2 linked regions of the Homo sapiens genome follow. The protein of the gene in region 2 purifies or fractionates together with the protein of the main gene of each other region. This does not show direct contact. Each region holds a gene or a part of one and is shown on either strand. Other genes may lie near its edges.

Region 1 (3,500 bases), on a different chromosome or scaffold from region 2:
TAAAAGAATGCGAATAAAGAAGTGGTAAGAGATTAAAGTGAAGAAAGGCTGTAGAATACTATACACTGATTGGCAATATTCAATTCTGTGCTTCATGTTGTTATGGAATAAGGTAACTGTTCTGTCTTTGATATAGAAGTATATTGTTCTCGCTGTTCGTATTACTACATTATGTTGGTTAAGCTGGCGAAAAGTACATTATGATCTTTGGAAAAATGAAAGTTATTAATATTTAATTAAAATAGTTTTAATTTATTAATAAGATGTAAACTTTTAATCTTTCAGACCAGTCTTTGAAGTGGTGAATTAAAACAATTTGTAATTTTTTTTCAAAAGGTGGCCGCTGTTCCTCCAACTCCCCAGCCTTTAGCTCCTACACCTTCAGCACCCTGCCCAGCTACTCCTGCTGGACCAAAGGGAAGGGTGTTTGTTAGCCCTCTTGCAAAGAAGTTGGCAGTAGAGAAAGGGATTGATCTTACACAAGTAAAAGGTAAATCTGTTTCTATAGAATGGACTTTATAAAGTTAAAATTTAGTTGAATTTCCTCCTTAAGACTTGCAAGTACAACTATGTATAGCCGTACTTATAATTGGGATAGTAGGGACAATCATTAATAATTCCTTCAGAAGGGAGAAATAGTTCTTTTGTTGCCACCACAGAGTAGGGAAACTTTTACTGAGCTTTATTTACTCTGCCTAGAATCTACCCATACACTTTAGATACCTTTTTTTTTCCTCTTCTATTCATGGAAACTGCTTGTTTGGTGAAAGTATATGTAAAATTTGGTTATGGGACTTGATTATGTAATAAGAAACCTCTGTTAGTGCTTGGTTGACTGTAGCAATAAGCAAAGCAAAATAAAATTTGAAGTTGGGGTGATTTGGAATGACTTAATAAAATTCATATAAAACAGAACTAGAGCTCCCTGAAGGCAAGGGAAAACGCCTTACTTGTCTGTCTGCCGCCAAAGAAAAAATATAGCTTTGTGATAAGAGCATGGGGCCTGGAATCAGACCACCTAGCATTTAATCCTGGCTTTATAATTTTCTATGTAATATGTTTTCCAGTGAATTACTTAGATTGTATGTCCTTATGTCAATTACTTTTCTATCTGTAAAACTGAGGTACTGTACATCGTATAGATTGTGAGAGTTAAATGAGCTATAACAGGTGAAGTGCTTAGAACTGTATCTAGCATATAAGTACTCAATACATGTTAGTTGTCATTCATATTGATATTACTGCCTGGTGCTTAAATAAGTTTTTTTGAATTAAACTTAAGCTAAAATTTAGTGTAGGATAACTAAGGTACTTATTTGGAATGGGGGGAAGTTATTATGCTTGGAACTTGGTTTGATGGCTTGTACTATGTGTCAGTCATTTAACTTACCATACTTAATGTACACAACACTTCTTGAAGTAAGAATTATCATTCCTTATTTTCTGGATAAGAAAACAGACTCTCAGACTCTTCAGGGTTCTTCCTTCCTGTTAAATAGTAAAGTTGCAGTGTAACTCTAGATTTGTTTAACTCTAAAGCCTGTTTCTTCACACTACCCTATCCTGCCTTCTGTTTTGATGCTCTGCCATCCATAATTACTAAAGAAAAATATGCTTATTTCCCCAATTTTCTAGTTATGGGTACTCAATGGTGGTTATCCCGTATCTGCAATTTGCTATCTTGTAGTTAGAAGTCAAGCCAATCCCAAGACACAAGAGTAGAATGTTGTAAATTTTTTGGACCTCAGAGATTCTTGTAATATTGGAAGATTCTTTTTTTTCCATCTTAATGCCATTTCAGTAGTATATTGCTATCATATATGTATATATGATTAGAATCAGGGACAGCAGTGTAAGTTGGAGTAACTTTTAAAGGGAGAAAGGACTGGGTTAATAATTATATCTAAAGAATTTAGACAAGCAAAGAAGGACCATTTATTAGATATTCAGCAATACTCGTTACCTTACTAAAGATATAAGTGGAAAATCCCTTAGGTATGAGCTGAGAGGAGTGTTAAAAAAAAAAAAGAAAGAAAGAAAATCCCACTGTTCTTACTATGCAGGCAGAGTTAGGTGATAAATATCATCGACTGCTATCTACACATCAGACACTTGTTCATCAGATGGATAAGATTTCAGTTTCAGTTGCTTATATGACCAACAATAAAGAATTAAATGAACAGAAAGGGAGTATAGCATAGTAGTTAAGAGTGTGAGCTCTGTAGCTGGAATGCTTGGGTATGAACCTCAGCTCTTTATACTAGCTGTGTGACCTTTTGTGTCACAATTTCTTTGTATATAAAAACATTAGGTTTAATGGTTGTGAGGTTTAAATAAGTTAACCAGTGCCTGTACAGAGAAAGCATATCTAGGTATTAGCTATAATGATAATAATATTTTTGTTATTAAATAAGATGATTTGAGTGCTAAGAAAGAAAGAAACTCAGTGATATACTAGTGAGTGAAAGGGTGAATGGATATATGTGCAGTCATGACTACTTTTAGACAGGTTGGTTGGGAGATCTTTTTGATGAGGTGACATTTGATTTGTTTTGAAAGATAAGAAGGAGGCAGCTTGAGCCAACCATGTGAAGAACTGGGGAAAGATCATTTTGGATAGAGAGACTAGCTGTACACAGTCTGAAATGGGAAAGAGTTTAGCATGTCTGAGGAACATAAAAGAGGCCAGTGTTGGCCAGGCGCAATGGCTCACGCCTGTAATCCCAGCACTTTGGGAGGCCGAGGCAGGTGGATCACAGGTCAGGAGATGGAGACCATCCTGGCTAACACGGTGAAACCTCGTCTCTACTAAAAATACAAAAAAATTAGCTGGGCATGGTGGCAGGCGCCTGTGGTCCCAGCTACTCGGGAGGCTGAGGCAGGAGAATGGCGTGAACCTGGGAGGCCAAACTTGCAGTGAGCCGAGATAGTGCCACTGCACTCCAGCCTGGGCGACAGAGCAAGACTCCGTCTCAAAGAAAAAAAAAAAAGGCCAGTGTTAATGAAGCATAATGAGCAAAGGGTCTAGTAGGAGATGAGATTGGAAAAAAACAGGGATGAGAACATAAATGACCTTATAGATTATGGTAAAGAGTTTGAATTTTATTTAAAGTACTTGAGGAAGCCATTGAGAAATTTAAGCAAAGAAGTGAAATAAAATGATTATGTTTTGAAAAGATCATTTTGGTTGCTCCATGGAAATGGATGAAACGTTTATATAGTTTATGTTTGACAAGATCCCTACTTTTTGTTACCCATAGTCCAGTGTTGTTCCCTTTATACCATATTGCTTTATGATGGCCTGTTGTGCCGCCCAAGAGAGATAGGGAAAAGGGTTTACAAGGTTTCAACTAACTCCTAAGTCAGGAAATTCTTGTGGGTGGCTGAAGCTTAGCATAAGGCAGGTGGTACTATGGATTTCCTCCTCTTGAGGGACTGTGGTGTCTAGATCAGCCTTGGTTGTAAGGGGAGGTTATGGTTTCTGTCTTTTACAAAGGAGA
Region 2 (4,012 bases):
ATGTGCGCATCTGGACCCATCCTGACCTCTCACTCCCAAGCCTTCCCCCACAAGGGGACCCCACTTCCCACAAGGACCCCTCCTTTGTTCTCCCTCTGCTCTATCTGACCCTCTAAATGATTTTTATTCATCTGCTCAGTATTGCCTCCACCATCAGACTCTATCTCCCCCATTAGACCAAGGACTCTCCAAAATAAAATCTAATTATTAGGCCTATGCCCCCAAAAGTTCCCCTCTAATTTCCAAGCTTCTATGTAGATGTTCAGCTTTGAGAGTTTGAAATGGGACAAGATTTCCTTACTTATCCCCCACCCTCATGAGGGAGGCAGGGTAGGTAGAGGGAGCCTCTGCAGGCCCCTGGGAGGTTCCTTGTGTACAGAGAAGCAGTGTGGTACAAAGAGGAGTCTGCCCTGCACACTGGACCCCAAGGATCAGGGCTCTGCAGACAGGGAAGCCCTCTAAGGTGACTAATCCCGGTGCACCTGCTCTGCTCTCTCCCACGGCCTCAGCCATTGCCCAGCCCCAGGGCTCTGCCACCCACTCCTCAGCATCTTTGACCTTCTGCCCCAGCCACCTCACCTCCTCGTGGTTCTTCTTCAGGTAGGCCAGCTCCTCCTTGAGGTTCTCAATCTGCATCTCCAGGTCGGCTCTGGCCAGGGTCAGCTCATCCAGCACCCTGCGCAGGCCATTGATGTCGGCCTCCACACTCAGGCGCAGGGCCTGCTCTGTCTCAAACCTGCCGTGGGAATCAGAGACTTCAGCCCAGGCTGCTTGGACCTGCAGATCCAGGTCCTGGCTGCTCACCTGCCTTCATTTTGCCAGGACTCTAAGGAGTTGGAAGGGCTGATGAGAGGGTCGAGTGGAAACGAATTCCAGCCCCGGGACCCCGGGACCATCACAGGGCCAGATCCCACGCCCACCAGCTTCCTTACTTCTCTCTGCCTCCCGCCTCCCGCCTCCCCTCCTTCTCTTCTATTCCCTGCCTAAGCTCAGCAACCTTCAGAACTGGCTGCCTTCACTGCATCCTGGACTAAGGAGTGGGGCTCCTAGGACTGCCCCACCCTGAGCTCCTGGGCCTTGCCACAAGCAACCAAGGAATCCTGGGGTCAGGAGGGGTACCCTGAGATCCTCCGCCAGCTGGCCCAGGCTGCCCAAGGCCACAGCTAGGACTCACTTGGTGCGGAAGTCATCAGCAGCCAGACGGGCATTGTCAATCTGTAGCAGGATGTTGGCATTGTCCACGGTGGCTGTGAGGATCTGAGGAGAAGGGAGAGTAGTCAGGTCATTGGATGGGGGTGGCTGAGCCCACACCAGGGTTCTGAGCAGATCTTCCTGCCTCAGGGCCTCTCTTCTCGCCCAGCCCCTCCCTTGCCCCGTGCTGTATTATTGGCAGAGGAGGGGCAAACAGGAGTCTGAAGGGCTGAAAGGTGCCTCTTCTTCCCCCGATACTCAGTACCCCACCAGACCCCCATGGCAGGCTCGGCCTTAAAGGAGAAGAGACAGCTGGCTGGGAGTATGAGGCAACCAGAAAAGAATGGGAAAATGTCCCCAGGGCAGAAGCTGTCCCAGAATTCTAGAACAAGGGAGGGGATGTGGGCAACCCCCTCGTTTTACAGTCAGCTAGAGGGTGCCCCTGACAGGCTCCCCCAAAAGGAGGCTAAAGGAGCCCTCATTAAAGAGTGGTTCCAAATCAAAAGTCAGGACCCCTCCTAATCCCTAACCCTGGGCGCCAGCCAGCAGCCCCGCCCCCTGGGGTTTGCTGAGCCCGTCTTAAGGGACAGCAGGAGGAAAGGAGAAGCCAGAAAAATCCCCAAATAAGGCACATCAGAGGCCTTCCCCACACTGAGGTCCCGCCCCCTCCTTTCTGCCTCCTCCTGCAGCAGGTGCTATCAGGAGCTCACTCAGACACCCCCACTCCACATCACCCAAAACCCCCTCCTGTTGACCCCTGCTCCAAAGGAGCAAGACACCACACATCCAGCAGCCCACGGGCCCAGCCCTCCATCTGCATCCTCCTGCCTCATCCTACAACCTCTCCAGGTGGCGGAGCTCCACGAGGGAGAAACTGAGGCTCCAAGGGGCTCCACAAGGCCTCTTTGTTCCTGACTCAGCTTGCTGTCCCCAGAAAAGGGGGATGTGAGCCACACAGGGGCCCCAAGGCAGGTTCCCAGAAGCTAAGCCACAGCCAAACCACCCTTGGCTCCCTGAGACCCTATGGCTGGACTCCAGGCCTTTGGCCAAGGCAGGAGTTGGGGGGAAGAAGTCATGCCCCCCGGAGACCCCTCCCACCAGCAGGCCCTACCTTGTTCTGCAGCTCCTCAATTGTCCTGTAGTACTGGCTGTAGTCACGGGCGGGCCCCGGGGCCTGCCTCTGGTACCAGTCACGGATCTTCACCTCCAGCTCAGTGTTGGCCTCCTCCAGGGCACGCACCTTGTCCAGGTAGGAGGCCAGGCGGTCATTGAGGTTCTGCATGGTGGCCTTCTCACCTCCAGCCAGCAGCCCATCAACACCCCCAAAGCTGCTGCCATAGCCACCACCAGAGCCAAAGCTGTAGCAGCTGGAGTAGCTGCTACCCCCGAGGGTGCTGCCCAGGCCGCCAGCAGATCCCAGCCTGCAGGAGCCGGCACCCAGGCCGCCAGACAGCCGGCAGGAGGTGCGGGACGAGCCGCCCCCCAGGCCGGAGGAGCCCTTGATGGAGCTGGAGGAGGTGAACTGGCGGATGGAGGTGGTCATGGTGGCGGCGGCAGGAGGCAGGCACACAGGAGAAGGGCTGGAGAGGAGAGGGGCCCCAAGTTGTGTAGGGCTGCCGGGGTTCGCCCGCTTCCTTTATAGGCCACCAAGTGGGCGTAGCGATTACAACAGGCTTGCTCCTCTGTTTCCATTCCCCTGGGCTTTCATCACCACTGGCCACCTGCCAGCTCCCAGGTGGCTGGGGGCCCCCTCCCCGCCCATCATCAGGAATTTGCCTCATTTCTCCAAATCCTCGTGCTGAGTGCCGTGCGTGTGCGTGCCTCTGGTCTCAGGCCCGTCACCTGTGATTCAGGCGGGCCCTCCAGCTATGCTTTCCCATGACCTAATACGGAGAAGAGGAGAAGGCAGGACGTCACCGTCCCCAGGCCCTCCCAGGCAGCCACCACCCCAGCCTGGCCCGCCTCAACCCTGTCTGGTGGGGAAATGGGTTGCAGTGTCAGCTGACCCCCCCGCCAAAGTTGCTGTCTTTCACCCCACACTGCTCCACCCACGGTGCTGGCCCCGGGGCTGGGTGCTGAAGAGAAAGAGGAGACCGAGAGCCTATCCTGCCTTGGAAACTGAGCCCAAACCCACCAGGCCCACCTCACAGCATAGAAATGCCATCAAGCCTCGGAGACCAACCCACATCACAGATAAAGAAATTGGGGCTCCAGAGGGGTGCCGTGTCCACACTGGCCCCTTCTGCAGAGCCTGACACCCAGGAATGCACTCTAGGGGCTACAGTTCCATCCAGTCAGCTTCTGACCCTGCCCCATCCCTAGAAATCCTTGCTAACCCAGTCTCTTCGTGTAAACCTTTCCCCAGGTTTACACTCCAGGCTGGGGTGGGCAAACAGGGGCTCAGCTATAGGATGGGGAAATGGTGGGCTGTGCCAACTGAGAGGGGGATGCCCCCTTCCACTCCCCTCACCCTTCTGTACCCCAAGAGACCTCAGGGTCAGGTGACGGGTATTTATCTCAGGTCTCAGCCCACAGGAAACCTAAAGGACATTGCCCAAGAAGAGGCTCTTACAGAGACCCCAGCCAGCCCCCTTCCCACTCCAGGCTCCCCAAGATGTGGCTCCTCAGGTGGGCCATGTGCCCCACCCCACAGCCCCACCCTGCCCTGCCCACCACCCCAAGCCCGGCCCTGGGTCCCAGGGTCCCGCCAGGCCCGCTGGGTGGAATGTGGTCATGTTTCAGACTGCCGATGGCTTCCACTTCCCAGACAGGCCCAGACGGCCCCGCCAGCAGCCGAGAGACATTCCTCAATAGCCCAGTG

What was found. Proteins that work in one complex are often made in the same cells at the same time.
Region 1: the proteins of KRT17 (region 2) and DLAT purify together in Homo sapiens (affinity purification with mass spectrometry, with the first as the bait; one large-scale study listed by BioGRID). This does not show direct contact.

The regions. Positions count from the first base shown.
Region 1 is NC_000011.10:112,038,908-112,042,407, forward strand, and holds part of DLAT (dihydrolipoyllysine-residue acetyltransferase component of pyruvate dehydrogenase complex, mitochondrial isoform 2 precursor), read left to right. Parts: intron 1-336; coding exon 337-490; intron 491-3,500.
Region 2 is NC_000017.11:41,621,776-41,625,787, forward strand, and holds the start of KRT17 (keratin, type I cytoskeletal 17), read right to left. Parts: upstream 2,801-4,012; 5' UTR 2,735-2,800; coding exon 2,303-2,734; intron 1,258-2,302; coding exon 1,175-1,257; intron 737-1,174; coding exon 580-736; intron 1-579. UniProt on the Homo sapiens protein: Type I keratin involved in the formation and maintenance of various skin appendages, specifically in determining shape and orientation of hair. Required for the correct growth of hair follicles, in particular for the persistence of the anagen (growth) state.